2 separate regions of the Homo sapiens genome follow, and region 1 is linked to region 2. A link means that fine-mapping ties the variant in region 2 to the plasma level of a protein whose gene starts in the linked region. Region 2 holds a variant in brackets. A gene starts in the other region. All regions are shown on their reverse strands.

Evidence for each region. A credible set is the group of variants that fine-mapping cannot tell apart. PIP is the chance, under the fine-mapping model, that this variant and not a neighbour inherited with it causes the effect. The UK Biobank Pharma Proteomics Project read protein levels with antibody pairs (Olink). The fine-mapping took linkage between variants from a reference panel, not from the people measured, so its PIPs are less certain.
Region 1: it holds the start of GFRAL, and the variant in region 2 is the best candidate, but not a certain one, in a credible set for the plasma level of the GFRAL protein (UK Biobank, PIP 0.90).

The regions. Positions count from the first base shown.
Region 1 is chr6:55,323,104-55,331,450 of GRCh38, reverse strand. GFRAL (GDNF family receptor alpha like) reads right to left here and starts at 3,982. Exons shown (of 9, transcript NM_207410.2): 1 at 3,875-3,982. The coding sequence starts at 3,896.
Region 2 is chr8:71,478,527-71,486,873 of GRCh38, reverse strand. It overlaps a transcript of EYA1 not described here. Among named protein-coding and RNA genes, the nearest start is that of EYA1, 120 kb to the right of the region's middle. The variant G/A (reference allele first, on the strand shown) is at 4,118.

The DNA.
Region 1 (8,347 bases), not on the chromosome of region 2:
TTCCATTAAAACTGCTCTTAAAAAAGTCTCTAATTACCCCTTTAAAATCTAACTTAATGGTTTTAAACTTTATCTCACCATTGACCATTTTGTTGACTTTTTTGTTTTTGAAACTCTTCCTTTGCCAGCCCTCCCTTCTGTTCTCTTGATATTTATCCACTTTGTATTTTCTGACCATAGCTAAAATTATTCCCAGGATCATTTTATTCTTCTAGTAAAGTATAATTTTAGCTTAGGTTCTCTTCTCAGACCTTTTCTATTTTCATTTTATACATTCTCTGCAGAAAATTCCATGTACTCTTATGGTTTGAACTAAAATGTTAGTCTGATGATTCTCAAATGTATAATTTAATCTCAGTATTTCCAGCGTTCCTGTCATAGGTACGTAATTGTTATCTCTACTTGAATGTTTCAGAAACACTTTCACAGGATCTTCATCATCATTGTTCCACTGTGGACCACTACTTCATTCACAATGCCACAATTAACATGAGAACTCAAACTAGAAATCTTGGTTTTGTGGTAGACTATTTTCCATCCTCAACTTCACTCTCCCATATTCATTCTTGCTAAATTTATTGACTTTCACTTTGAGCATTTGTTTAACTTATTAGTCAGTCTGCCTCCAGTTTGAATCTTATTCAGAACCTTATTCAGATAGGTTCTTTGTAACCCCTAATCTACCTGATGTACTATTCTAGTCTTGCCATTTTTCTGTTTTATATCCTTTAAACTATTTCTCATATCAGGGCTCTCATATTCCTCACCATGTGCAATCTGGAAGGTCTCAAGCATTTATCGTTTCCCGAATGATCCATGCTGTCTTCTACCTCTGCATACCTACTGTCTGATCCCTGATAAGTATTTTCTTTCTTTTTCTTCTGGAATAACCCTTTTTGTTGTTTAAAACTGAACACAATCATTAGCTATTTTCTGGAAACTTTACTTGAATTCTATACTCCCCTTTTTCCACACTCAAATTGAATTTGACATCTTCCATCCATTTACTAGAACTGTGGGGATCCCGCAATTACAGATTTTACTGTTCTGTAGTGTATATATTCATGTGCCTGTCTCCACCACTGGATTGTACAGCTTTACCCACAGACATTAAGGATAATTTATAACTGTATTTTTGTCACCAAACACAGTGATGCAGTATAGGTATTCAATAAATGAATATTGGCTTATACCCAAGTTATTAGATGTTTATATATAAGATATATAAATAACTGATAACATCTAAAAAATAATACCTTCCAGATATTTACAAGTTACTTTTGCTAGAGGAGAAATCCAGCAAGTTTTCTAAAAACAATCAAGAAAATAGCAATGTTAATTTAATATGTTACGCAAGTTAGTCAAATTGATTCTGCAAACATATGAAGTGACACTAGCCAAATCAATTAATAGAAAAAAATACAGGGATTGAAATTGTGTTACAGAGACAGTTGTAGTAACTGTCATCAAGAGAGTCAAGCTATAACTAAATAAGAGCCAAATTATTTGAATTTTTAAATGCTGTTGTTAATTATGAATCACCTGTGACAATGTAGAGTGATAGGCTTCAAGTAAGGGCTTGAAATCTCTCTTTTTTTTTTAAATCTTACCTCTTTGCAAATCTCATCTTATAAGAAGAATCCAAGACAACTGATTGGACCATGTGTACTACTTGCTGGGTCACTGCATTTGGAGATTAGGCCCATGGGTGTAGCTTGGTAACATTTTTCTTGCTGAGGGCTGGAGTGGAAATGGACATATCAGCTTTCTGTTTTCTCATGTGTTCATGGACAACCTCATCTAGCCAAGCCCTTGTACTCCTTATTTGGCTAGCCCAAAGAAAGAAAAAGAGGACTCTTTTGATCCTAGCACAAATTTACTTGGTCAAATCCAGTTTTCCAAAGACCCAGAAATAGAAATTTGAAGTCATAAACTCAACTTATAAGAAAATGGTATTTTATTTGCCATTAATCATTATATCTTGTGAAAAGCCCCTTCAAGAATCTTATAAGTGATAATATCCCAGATATATCATCAAAACTTCATCAGTACTTCAGAGTAATAATCACTTAGAAATACTACATGTTGTCTTCCCCAAATATGTTTTACTTCCTTTCACATTTTCAGTTTTTAATGTTTTACTTCCTTTCACATTTTCAGTTTTTGGTTGAACAAGCTTCTTAATAGATTATTTTATAGGATTTTCCACACTTCCTACTCAACAAAATATTGACTCAACTAAGAAAACCACCTCAATGATTTGGTCCACAAGAATCAAGAATGTATTACCTCTCCAAAATCTGTCTTATTCATTCCAAACTATGACTTGTGGTTTTGTATTTAACCTAGGATTTTTCAAGAATTTTCCTGTAATACTCAATGAAAAATAACTTCTATTTTTAAATTAATAAGATGGATAATGCTGCAAATTATATCAGTGTTTTAAAGATGTATGGGGCTTATTATCCTACTAAATGTTCTGAGATTTTAAAATTCATTGTTTTCCACATTTCTTTACCAACAGACATTTTCCTCATTATAAGACCTATTTAGATAATGTCAAACAAGCATTCTAAAAAATATAATATGGGAAATGTTGGTACAACATATCAAATAGTATAATTTTAGTTCTAACAATGTTAAGAAGTTATTTCCCTCCTTCATGCAACCTGGTGTCAAGTTAATTTAGAAGTAAAAGATGAAAATAAGAGGCCATTGCCTTTTCAACTGAGGTCATAATGAGTCTGTAATGTATTTTGTGAGCTTCATTATATTGCTGCCTGATCTATAAAAATTAAAGTTTCCTATATTTCTCTTTATCACAAAAAAGAACTAAAGAAATATTAACAATCTTTATAAAAATAAGAAAATATTTTAGGAATAATTACAAAAAGCAAAATTATGGAACAATGGAAAAATATTACTTAAACAAAAGAAAAACTGAAAATATAAGGGATTTCTCTCCTTCTTAACTTGTTTCCTTGACTTGATATGACTCTCCTTTTATGTTCGATACAATTTAAAGTAAACTTCTTTGCTTTCTGGCCCATAATTATGCCTTTATTCAAGTATATATTAGCTTAAACATAAAATGCCATATTTTTAAAATTACAATCTAGCTACAGTTACAATTATTCCTTTTCTGAATTCAGTTTATAGATTCTACCAAATGCTAAAGAAGATATAAAATATTCTCCAGTCACACATCTAGCAAATAGATTCATGGATTCTACATTAAATAAAAATAAATTATTTTTCATCAACATCTTATAATACATTCATCGGATCCAATACAAGAGAAGTAAGTCCACACTTGAGTTCTAGGTCATAAAAATTAATGAAAATATGAAGCATTCTGATATGGTGTTAAGTGGTTTTACTTCACTAAATTACTTCTAGTTAGCAAATATTAACACTGTAGGTAAATTGAATGTTTTAAATTAATCTTATTTTTGTTTAATTTCAAAGCAAAATAAATAAAATAGATAACAGTTTGAAATTTTTCATCTTATAACTTGTAAATAGATACTGGAAGGTTTTATTTTTATTTCTAAAAGGTTCTAACACATGTGTGAATTCCATTAATCCTAATAAGTAACTCAAAGTCATTGGGTCATTCTATACAATAAAACAGAAACAAGCTGAGAGATTAATACAATTTTCACATGCTGCATTATCTATAGAGTTAGAAATAAGTGAGTAAAAGTGAGTGTACATTTTTGCAAGAAGAATAAACCATGTTAAAGCATAAATTTGTAATTTACTTGGTACTTCATATTATAAGCCCCTGTTAAGCTTAAGTGTGATGGTATTCAGTTTACAAAGAATTAGTATTATGAATAATTCAGATAAACCAGAAGCACCATTCACTTACCCAAGAAAATAAACACTATCATGCTGGACAACTCACGGCAGTTCACCTGGAAAAAAAGGCAGATGCGTTTCTTCTGACAACTTTCTTAAGAGTAACTGTCCAGAATAAGGCTTCAGCCTCTGTGTTTGCTTCCTAAAGGCATTACCAATTCAAGTCAGCTTCCTATATCATCATTTCCTCCCCAGTGTTTCCTAAGTTGTGAACTGTTCTAATTATATTCAAATTCGATTATTCTCCTGAGGGTGCTGGTCTTGAATATTAGGATATTATGCCTCTAAGAAAGCCCATGAGCCAAATACTAAGAGAAATGATACATAATCTGCACGTTCATGAAAAAGGTTTATTTTCCTTAACTAAAATACAACACTACGTAAAAGCCTCCCAAATATGACCCAAAATTTTCAAAGACACTTGAGCATACTCAGTCTCCACTTGTTTAATTAGCCTCATTAAGGCAATTTCATGTCATTTGAGGATATAGAAAAGCTAAAAACGCATAATAGCCCTGGAAAATGTATGCAAAATCGAAGTTCTACTAGAATTAGCCTGATATAACTCAAACATACTGGGAAGCTGCTTCCCAAACAAAGAATGTTGTATTACATGTGCCACAAACCCCAGTATGCTTAAAAATTATGCCACTTCAGCTACAGTATCTGATACCTTCCAAGTACAGCTACAGTGTAAAAAACATACTCTTCTCAGTGATGCAGAAATTCTATGTTCCACTGGAAAGATAATCATCTACATTTGTGTGCATCACTTGACAACTATTTTTTTTCCTAGTTTCAATGAAGGGACTTATTTATCTTATGCCTTGGTTTGGCTACGCCCTTCCTCATGTAAACCTACAGCACATCATCTTTCTTGGGGTGTCATGAGACTTCTATTTCTAAATCACCTGGAGGCCTTTCTAGAATGAATGCTTAAAAAATAAAATGCTGCTTTGGCAAGAAATTAAGAAGAGATAGGGATGGGAGAGAAGTATTTGTGCAGTTACACCATTGAGTTTTTGATTGCATATTGTTCATGTTTATTTTATACCAGTAGAGAAGTTATACTATATTTTGTTTTCAGCAGGCATAATGAAAAAACACAGACTCTAGAGTCCAACAAACAAAAATTATAACACTGCTTTTCTCTATAGATCTAGATGAGTGACTTAGCATTGGAAGTTATTCACTCCTTTGTAAAATGTGTCAATTGTATTAATTCTTGCTGTAATATAAGGTATGTATATGAGGGGCTTATATCACAAAAAAATTGATTATATTACATTCACTGACTTAATTATTACATAATAGAAGGATTATAATATCATAAAATTAATCAATCTTTTCTTCTTTTCAAGGGATTGAGTCACTAAACTTTCCTAATGACTTCTACCAAGACAAGCTTAGATATAAGCCAACTTAAAAGGACTTAAACTAGGACAGAGTTGGTTACTACCATAGTTGAAGAGTCCGTGGGAAGAATTAATTTCAGGTGTGTTTTAAACTGTTTTCTCTGGGTCTAAGTTGTTTGTTTCCTCCTGTCTCTTACCTGCATTCTTCTCTACCAGTTCTATTCCCAGAAAGGCTATTTCCTTCTGGTGGGAAGATGGCTGTGAAGCCCTTGGCAAACATCCTTCTCTCTTAGAAAGCAGGGTAGAAAGTGTCATTCTTTTACTATTAAAGTTGCAGAATTAAGTCACATCAGTTCTAGATGTGTCAAGTGCCAATCAATTTTACAAAAGGAACTTACCCCATGTCCAGTATCATAGATACAGGTTGTCAGTGTAGTTGGCCCTTTTCAAAGCACAGAATCTGATGGTGCAGAAGGTGTGCATCACGAAGGAAAATTATGGTATTAGAAGAAGCAGCTGAAGGGATCTTGGGGCAGCAAAAACCACATGCTTAGTAATGTATCTAAGTGCTGAGTTTAAGAAGAGCAACCACAAGGAAAATAAACTTATGAAACAAAGGAAGAGAATAACATAATTTTCTGTTCAAGGAAGGCGATATAGTTATGACTTTCTAGAGTGCAGTGATCCACAGAACCTGAATATAAGACCCTGTGAATGGTGCTAATCTTTGCCAGACAAGTACAGCTGCTTCGGTCTATAACTTATAGGTATAGAAAGCACCTGTGGTCATATAGCTGTTTATCCAACACAAAATAATATCAGCTGTGTTACCACTGAATGCCTGTTCATTGAGCCATCAGTCCTCTTTGTGTATAGACTCCTTCTCAGGATAATATTTTCATGGCAAAAAAAAATTTTAAAGATCATAAAGGAAATTAAGTATGTTAAAATATACTTGTCAAAATATGTTTTAAATTTGTGATAAAGTAATACATATGCTTCCTCATTGCAGAAGGAAATATCAAGATCTAAGTGAGTCTAAAAATATTGTTGTTTCAGTGTAGTGATTATCACAGATCCTAATTTGAAAGAACTTCCACTAATAAAATGTTATATAAAAATATCTGTAACTTCTATTAGTGACAAAGATAGCACAGGAAGTACTGAATTTCAATGAGTTTAGTAAAAAGATAACACAATTTTACCCCAAGCAAATTATAGAACCTCAAATTCATAAACCCAAATTTAATGTCTACGAAAATAATACTCTCGATTATTTAAATGAAAGCTGCTATTGAATCAGAACATTGTAGAAATAGAATTATCAATTTTGATAGTTTCTAATTATAATGTGTGCCTAATTTTAAAATGTATTCTACATTTCAAGTAAAATGTTGTAATATATAAATGAAACAGAAGAAAGTACAGCTGCTCCGGTGGGAATTTTCATGAGTAGTCCTCAGCTCTACTTATTGGGCTTTGCCAGCACATTCACAGCTGCTACTGAAGCATCCCAAAGGCTCTGAAATTCCCATTCAAAATTCCCTAAATTTATGTAATTGCTTTTTGATAAATTTTGTTTTAGCTAACGTATCATTCTCATGACAGTTAAATGCACTAGACCTCACACCTTGGCAAAAGACATGTAATATTTACTAAAAGACTTTTGTATCAAAGACTCTACAAAAACAAAAATGAGGGACAGACACTAGTTGCATGAATTGGATAAACTAGAATGCAAATTAAGCTACATATAAAAGCGAAAAAAGAAAAATTGTTAAATAAAACTCTATGATAAATCAGTGAAAAAAACTTCATATTCAAGGGCACTTCTTTTTGGAACATAAAGTTGTTTAAAGCTTTTGTTCAGTGACATTCGACTTCCTCCAATCACCTTTGCATTACCACTATATTTGTCTACTTAAAACTTTTGTAGCATGCTACTGTCTGGAGGAGTCTGTTCAGCTCTAGCCAACCTAAAATTGACATTCTGAAAAGAATACATACATATGGTCATGAGTTTCTTGGCTAAAAGACCTGTAAACAGAGTTCTAAGATGCCAAGTAATAAAAGCAGACATGAAGCAGTAATTTTTGGAGAAATTAAACAACAACAACAAAAAAACTCTTGCTTTTTTTATTGGAAGACCTCACCAAAAAAAATAATAATAATTAGGTATACTTAATCACCTCACCATAACTTGCCCATCAAGCTCCTCACTCACAACCTGATGAGATGTGGCCAGGCATGGAGGGACAAGGCCGCCAAAACTGGGAGAAGCTGAGAAACCACAAGGAGCCAAGACTCTGAGGTTTGTTCTGCGGAGTTCAGATGGACTAACGTTACTGAGACTCAGTGGATGAAGAGGAAAAGATAAGTGCTAATTATGGGTGGCCTTTTATGCTTTACCAAGAAGACTAGAGTTTAACAGAAGAAAGAGAGGCTTTTGGTGAGTTCCAGAACAGAGTAACCTGGTTGGGTTTTGAAAAATTGCTTATGCAATGCTATGGAAGATGGTTTGGAAACAAGGTAAATTGCCTGTCACAAAGCTATGTCAGTAGTTTAGGGGAGAATGACAAGGGCTGAACTAAAAGTAGTAATGATGCAGAGAAAATGGTAGGTCCAAGAAATTTCAGAATTTAAAATTTACAGGATCTGGCAACCATTTGAGATGGTGGGCGGGTTGAGAAGGAGGAATGAATTCTTACTTTTGTTTTGCGTTACTTGGTGTTGGTTGTCACCATTTATCAAGGCACAAGACTCACAGTTCAATACTCTTTATACAAAATCATTCAATCCATTGATGAAGTTAAAAATTTTAATTAAACAGCCATTCCTTTGGCTCATGTCATCATTTGGGAAGATACGCTGCCTGTCTTCAAGAGAACTAAAACAGCTCCAAAAAATAAGATTGCCTTAGAGGATTATTATTAAGTTCTGGCCCTCAGTCTAGTAGGAAATAAAGAATGGACTCATTTATTATTTATGCTTTAAACAATGATATTGATGGAAGTGTTAATGATATTGCCAATTTATTTACTTATAAAAAAAGCTAAATGCTAGCCAGTATCTTAATGTAGGTATGCTAACATAAAATTGGTGGGTGAAAATATTTAAAGAGGATTAGT
Region 2 (8,347 bases):
TTAGAAACTGAGGCAACCTACCAGAGCTGGGATCTCTAATATTCATTCTCTTCCTTTGTTTCTTTCAGCATGACCCTGAGACAACTCCCTGGTGGGAGAGTTTGGGTCTGCAGGGCAGACGTGCTTTCTTAGAACCTCACCCTTGCATCCACTGGGAGCAGAAAGAGAAAGCAAGCTGAACTCCTGATCTGCCCCTGCTGTCAGGTCTTGGCTCTGGGCCTTGACCTGCTGCTTACACAGAGGAGGGTGGGAACCGAATAGGATCCAGGTCTTTTTTCTCTGGATTCGGAGGATCCCCAGGGAGAAACTCACATAGCCAGCTTCTCCCTACCCACCTGGCAGGTATAGATATGCCACTGCTTCTCCCAAGAGGAGGCACGACTGGGCAGGAGAAAAAGGACCCCCAGGTTCTTTTCTAATGCTGTTCTCCTTGGAGAGAGAAGCAGAAGCTTCCTAATCTGAAGACTGTTGTAGGAGCATGAGGGGAAACGAATGCTTTCTCCTAACACCTCAGTTTCTTCTCTTTCCAGTAGAGTCGATTATACCTCTTCTGTGTGCCTCCCAGGATTGTTGAGGTGATCAGAGGCGCCAACCCAAGGGAAAATTCCTTGCAGCAATCACTGTTGCACCATAAGGAGGAAAAACACAGTGGTTGCATAGTGCTTTGCCACCAGGAGAGTTGTAGTGGGAATATCCCCAAGTCAGGCAGGTTGTCTCAATACTAGTCTGATAGTGCTATGCCTAGTACCAAGTCTTCACCACAGCAGGAATTCAATACTTGCAGGGATGATTCTGCCGCACCCTTCAAACCATGCAACCCGATACTCACTATGAAGATTCCGCCAGAACTGTTGGTGCTAATTAAACTCTATTTCTGAGATCCTAATGGTTGGTAGGGGCAGTGACTTCACAGGTCCCTTTGCATTTGGCAAAAGCTATCAACTCTTCTCTCATTAAAGGACACATCAAACATAACTTTTTTTTATTGTTTCAAGACACTCATAAAAACTCATAAAAAATGCCATCCATGGAGCCTTTAGAATGACTTGGACCTCAGTGAAAAATCCCTGACTTGGATGTCAAATCTTTTGGAAACATTTCAGCCCTTATTTTACTTATTAACTCATCTGCAGAGTTAGTCACTTACATTGGATTAAGAGAATAACCTTGCAGGTTTTCATTTAATACCCAATACTTAAAAAAAATACAATATAAAGAAAAACAAAGCCATATTCCATCCAGAGGTAAGTAAGAATTTGGGATGGTAGCTCCCCAAACTAGTAAACTCTTTTTTTTTTAAATGGTTTACTCTTCCGTTGACTTGTACTTTTATTCTTGTAAAATCTGTTCTCTTCTTGCCTAACCGTTCTTTTTACATGATTTAGAGGAATGAGAAAATGAAGAGGATATGGGACTGGAGATTTATTAGTTTATGATTCTTCTCCATTGCCTCCTTGTCAGTTTTTATGTCCCCCTAACTTTGAGAAGGAACACATTATTTGTATTTATGTAGATTTATTTTTTTCAGTGAAAAGACATATGTCTCAAAATATGAAAGAAAAATTGGTTTTAGTTATATATATGAAAAATTACAAGTTGTCCTCAATATGAAATGTTTGATTGTTTAAAAAAATACATGAATCTTTGGTCAAAGGAAAACATCTGATCATGACACTTTATCTAATGTTACTTAGTTTGAATTTGAAAAGCATTTTCCTATCTACTTTTATTCACAACAATAAATCACAAACTTTAACATATACCAATAAGCAGTTTGAAAATGAAATACGCATCCATTAGTCAGTCAGATCCTCCTAGAGTTTTTGTCCTTGGACTCTAGTCCTGCTTATGAATAACCATGAGGCTGTTTAGGGTGGTTGGCAATGCAGTTGAAGGCTGCTAGAGGCACAGAGCTTTGCTTATGGCTTACATGAGGCTTGTGAAGAATTTCACAGGCGTGGCTCCCAACAGCAGCTGTTCCCTACCCTCCAGGTCCCCCGGGACAGGCCAGTCTGGAGCCAAGGCCCATGCTCTCAGCTGCCAGATGGAAGGAGGGTGGTAAGACAGCATGATGGGGAGCGGCAGCATGGTCACAGGTAGTGGGAAGTGGAATAGCTCCCTGGGACAGGAAGTACAAGGTGCAGTAACTGACCTTTTCATTAGGAGAGGATTTCCCAGCACACCTCAACCCGTTGTACATGGCCAGCAATCTAATTTGCAGGACCCAGTGCAAAATGAAAATGTGAGGGCTCAGCCAGGGGTAGGGAAGTCAGTGTATCCTTCTTGTGTGTGCATCACCCCAAACAGCAACATAGGAATGACCCTCAAGAGGTTTCAACCTGAATACCTAGGTAGGGGAATTCCTCACTATAGCATTAGACTGAGGGCAAAGTTATTACCAATGGCATAACCAAGCCATTACAGCCAGCCCATTGACCAACACTTTGAGGTGGGTTACAAGAGAAATACCTAACCTTTGCCTGCCACTTTAGAATTTGTGTATACTTTCCCTTTCATTGACTAATTTACCCTCAGGCTTCTGTAATGGTACACATTTCAGTAAACCTGGTCTTTTTACTTTTGTGAACCCAATGTTCTGCTTCTCTTGTTTATGCTTTTACACAGACTATGCTTATTCTAAAATAAGGTCTTTCCACACTTTCATCTCTTAAAACCCCCCTGACACAAGCATCAGTTTTTTCCCTTTCCCCTGCAGGGATGGGCACAGGTGACTGTGGGTAATCCAGTTGTACAAAGGAGGGCTATCCTGCTATATTACCTTCCTGGACCAGTGAGGTCAACCAGCCCCTGGCTCCTGTGGCCTGAGTGTAATTCAGTAGCTGCTTGTGCAGGTCTGTGAAAGCCCCTGAGAAGTCCCAGAAATACAAGAACACCGCAGCTGAGATGCTCTTCTCTTTTTTTGCTAAACTTTCTCCCATGACAGAAGAAAACAATTTACCCTCTCATTTTACTTCTGATTGACCCTTTGTTTCCCACCTCCAATTTCATACCTTACTCTTATTTAGTCAAACTCATTTCCTCAGCCGGAAGGAAAAGTTTCCATACTATTTGGGGTCAAAATGAAGGAAAAGCTCTTGCTAACTTTCCTTATGGGCTCATTTTTACACATTGCATCACTGCTTTCAATTCTTGCCTTCTATTCTGTATGTTTGCATACCCAACACACACACACACACACGCACACACACACATACCATTGACGCTATTAGGCAGATTGTCATATTCTTCCCACATCCTGATGTTTTTTTCCAGCTTCCCCAGAGGCCACATAAAAAATGTGGTGTTTTTTTTTTGTATATTCTAAATATTTACTGAAGACTAAAGGAGAAAGAATGTGAGCTAGTTTTGCATGTTAAAAAATTGTTAAACTTTTTTAAAGTGTGTTTTTCTCTCTTTTGATAATACACTGAAGCTCAGTTTATTTCTTCAGTGTGGCAAACCTGATTGTGATTGGTTTCAATCAAACACACACACAGGTACACATGCACATACTAAAGTGAGGGCTTTGCAGTGTTAAACAGGATGAGCTCAGATAGAGCTTGGTGAGAAGATGACATTTAAACACAGTCTTGAGGAGCTGAGAGAGGGAGGTTGGTGGCTATCTCGAGGAAGAACATTCCAGGCAGAGGCAACAGCCAGGGCAGAGGCCCTGGGACAGCAATATTCAAGGAATGTTTTAGCAGCAGCAAGGAGCAAAATAAATTAGAAGGGTTGGAGTGGCCAAATCTGGTTATTGTGGGCCATTAAAAGAGTTTGACTTGTACCCCAAGTGAAATGGGAGCCACTCATGGGCTTGAGCAGGGGTCTGTCATGATCTGGATTATTGACTTCAGAGAATCAGGTGACCAATTCAGAGGTGCAGTCATGGTAGGAGCATACATTTTTGTTTATGTAGACACCCCTGTAACCACCACCAGGAAGAAGAAGGAATACAGCATTTACACTACCTCCATTGTACCCCCTCTCTTTCAGCTGATACCCACAAAGGTAACCTCTACTCTGACCAATAGATTTGTTTTGTGTTTTACTTTTGATTTCATGTAAATAGGAATCCTATAGTATATGTTCTTTTGTGTCTGGCATCTATTGTTTGCTC[G/A]ACTTTGGGCCTGTGAGTTTTGTCTATGTTATCGTGTATGTCAGTAGTTCATTCTTTTCATTGCTGTGTAGTATTCCATTATATGAATATGCCACAATTTCTTTACTGTTGCTGAACATTTGATGATTTCATTTTTTGACTTTTATGAATTATGTTACCATGAACATACTTGTAAATGTCATTTGGTGAACACATGCATTCATTTCTCTTGGGTATATACCTAGAAGTGGAATTGCTGGGTTTTAGGATAAACATAGGTCTAACTTCAGAAAAGAGTCCAAACAGCTTTTCAATGTGGTTGAACCAGTTTGAACTCCTACCAGCAATGTGTGAGCACTCAAGTTACTCTACGTCCTCAACAACACTTGATACTAGTTCTTTAACTTTAACTATCCTAGTAGATGAACAGTGGTATGTTGTTGTGGTTTAATTTGCATTTTCCCGGTGAATAATGACATTGAACACCTTTTCGTATGCTTTTTAGCCATTTGAATAGCCTTTTGTGGAAGTTCCTGTTCAGATCATATGCTCATTTTTTATATTGGATTGTCTTTTTGTTTTTGATTTGTAGGTGTTCTTTTTATATCCTGCATATAAGTCCTATGTTAGATATATGTCTTGTGAATACCTTCTCCTCATCTGTAACTTGCTTTTTCACTTTCTTAATGGCGTTTTTTGACAAATAGAAATTCTAAATTTTAATGAAGGCTAACTTTTTAATATTTTCCTTAATCAATAGTGCTTTTTATGTGTCCTGATAAAGAGACTGTGGTCTTCCTCTTTCTTCTTAAACAGAAAAGTTACAGAATGGAAGCTACTTTGTTTGATTCAACTTGCTTTCTGATGGGCATCAGAATAAATCAACCACTAAAATATTTTGTTTCTCCTCTTGCCCCTCCTCTCCTCCTCCTCCTCCTCCTGCTCCTCCTTCCTTTTTCTCCATCAGAAGTTAAATTCCTGCTGTGATTGCCCTGGCTTCAATTTCCCATATAGCAACTGCTGCTGTTGCTGCTGCTGCTGGCCATTTGCAGGATTATACAGCTCTACGGGAAAAGTAGGGGATAGAATATAACAGAGAACTCTTGTTGATTAACTTGCTTTACAGCTGCATATTAAGCTCATCATGTAAAGGAAATTGGCCCAGTTAAGTATCAATACCACAAAGCAAAAGCAATCTCGTTTGTTTTCATACCCATATTCAGCATCTTGCATAGTCCCGGCGTGCAGTAGGCACTCAGAAAAAAACATTTTTCTTTTTCAGAATTAAGTGGATTCGTCTTGAAAAAATATCAAAAAATAAGTTCTTGCAGTCAATGTAACAGCTTAGGATTGATCATTATTCTCAGTTCAGTGTGGAAGATGGTATAATTAATACTTTTCTGATCATTCAATGACTCTCATCTTAAAATTGACGGCAGCCTTGGCTAGCATGTGCTTGCTATTTTTATAAATAAAAAATGCTACTCATGCAAATACAAATAAATATTTTGTAAGGTGCTTTCTCATATACTTAGAGTTTAAACTAAAAATATTTAATGTCCAACTTTATTATGTTACTACTTTGTAAATTCTAGTAAACTTTTTTTAACTTTTCTAAAGCAATGGAGTAAAATCTGTGTGTTTTCTTTATTTGTGCATAATTTTCTATATTCGTTAACTTAAAATATATGCTTAATGCCTTGAAATATTCTAATATGTATACAACTTGCTACCTAAAATTTATTTTAAATTAGTTTTAATAATAGAATTAGAGCTACTGGAATTTTTCTAAGTTGAGTTTTGACATTTGCTTTTGAAAATTCATTTACCAGAAAAAAAAATTCTAATTTTATTGACCACGGAAAAAAGCCATTTTCACCTCAAAGGAATTTTTAAGACCTTTTAAAGTTAATATACACATAAAGCAAAATTGTTTAACTTGCAAGGCATAGATATAAATAATTGATATTTGTTTTAGAATATTCTAAACAGGTTATTTTGCTTAAATATCTATTTAAAATGGAAACGTAAACTATCTCTTCTACTGTTTTTTTTTCATGCAGATATAATGTTTCGATTCTTTGGTGCTAAATCCATTAACATGTATTATTTTGAATCCATAGTGCTGAGAAATTAGGCTCAGGTTTTGAAAAGAGGAAAGGAATTCATGGGATTTTTTTCTATTCAGCTGAAGGTGCCAGCATTTTTTTTTTCACTTTAGAAGGTAAATAAATTGTTCCGGGGTGGATCTTAATCTCTCAGTTTTGCAGACCAATCAGTGGAATTTTGTTGAAATGCTTTAAGACAATGCGTGTGTACAAGTGATTTAACCAGTGATGAGGATAGAAAACAGCATCTGCTTTCAGCCAAGTGATTACTTTTGTACTGTTGTATAAAGGCAAACAAAGGTGCTTCCCTGGGCCCCATTTTGTACCCCGGTAATCTCATGTCATATACACATCACATCATCCCCATTTACAATTTTCACACATTTCGAAATGAACATTTTAATAATGAAGTCTTTTCTGTTGATTAGAGCTGTAATGATTAAATGGTCTTGAGTTTTCTTAGCCTGTGAATGTACAAGATTAGACAAGAATTACAAATAAAATCAAGGAAACTGTAACAATACGTTATGGATAAACTTTAGGAGTAAAGCACCAGGGATTTTTTTCTTTCTTCTTCTTTATTTTTTTTGAGGAGTGAAAGAAATTAGAACAAGATGAGGAAATAAAAAATTTAAGTGACCACATGTATCACTTGAGATACCAGGGATTATGAAGATCAGAGAAGATTTAGGAACTAGAGTAAATAGGTCTCTCTTCCAGCTCATTGTTTCCAATCTCCTTTGGACTGCTTGTGGAAAAGGCAGACCATTACATAATAAACATTTTATATATAAATAATTTTTGTCCACCCACATAGCTCACTGACAGGTATTAATGGGACGAGCAGGGATGGGAAGCACAGTTGAGTGGTGTTCAGGTATCTTAGGAAACCCTATCCACTGTTGAGTGATAGGGTGTCTTCACCTTCACATCTCAGGGGCCAGTGTAGCTGCTTGGGCCATAGAATTATAGCTGTGATATCAGGTGCTCTAAAATGGTATCCCCAAATATCCAGTCCAGAGAGGCTTTTTTTTTTTTTTTTTTTTCATAAAGAAAGTGTTCTAAAGGTATTTTTACTGTTTCTGCTCATTCAACAGTGTTTATGCAGCAGGTACTGTAGTAGGTGCTGGAGAGACAGTAGTGTGCAATACAGACAAACAATAAATTCCTCCCCCATGGCCTTACAGCCTGGGGGGTGGGCAATAAAAGAAAGTATAAGTAAGGAAATTACATAGCATGTTAAAATGGAATGTGGAAAGAGAAAGAAAATTAGAGCAGAGTAAGAAGACTAGGAAATGCTAGAGGCAAGTGGGTTGTGATTTGAATAAGGTGTTCAGGGTAGGCAGGCCTCGTGGGGAAGGTGCAATTTGAGCAAAATCTTGAAGGAAGTAGAGAAAGTGAGCCATGAGCAAATCCAGGGAAAATTTCTCAATGTCATGGAACAGCTGGTGCAAAGGCCCAAATGAGGGAGCATGCTGAGTGCATTGGTAGACTAATCAAGAGGCCAGTGACTGTAGTGAAGGAAGCAAGGGTTAGGAAAGTTGGAGGTGAGGTCAGAGAGGTAAAGGGTGTGGTGTGGGAAAGTAGGTCCCTATCACATAGCACCTCACAGGACCTGGTTAAGGCTTTTGTTTGCAGAAAAGTGGTGCATCATTGCAGGGTTGTAAGCAGAGGAGCATGTCATTTTGCCTTCTTGATACCCACAAAGAATGTTACACAAGAATAAGTATTCTCTTGTATCTCTGCAGTACCTGATGCATGGTAGATGCTCAGTAAATATTTGTTGAATGGATGGATAAAAATGGCAACACACTCATGTACAGGTTTTTGATCAATCTGATGATAAAGTGCTTTATTGTGGGACTCTCGTGTTTCTTCTGTGTAGGACTCTGACTCATGAAGAGGTGGACTTTCAATGGAAGGCCTCCCATGCCTCCTGTGACCCCATTGTGAGCATGCTAAGGGCCCAGCAGCTATTTCCTCTAGATCAGTGAACAATAACTTGAGAAGGATCTTTACGTGGCTGAGGTCCACAGCATGTAGGCAGTGTATCTCTTGCTAGCACCATTTCTGGCTGAGTGGCTGTTCACAGGTAGAGGTCTTTGAAGAAAGACTTTAATCCTTATGAAGCTCATTTCGTTTA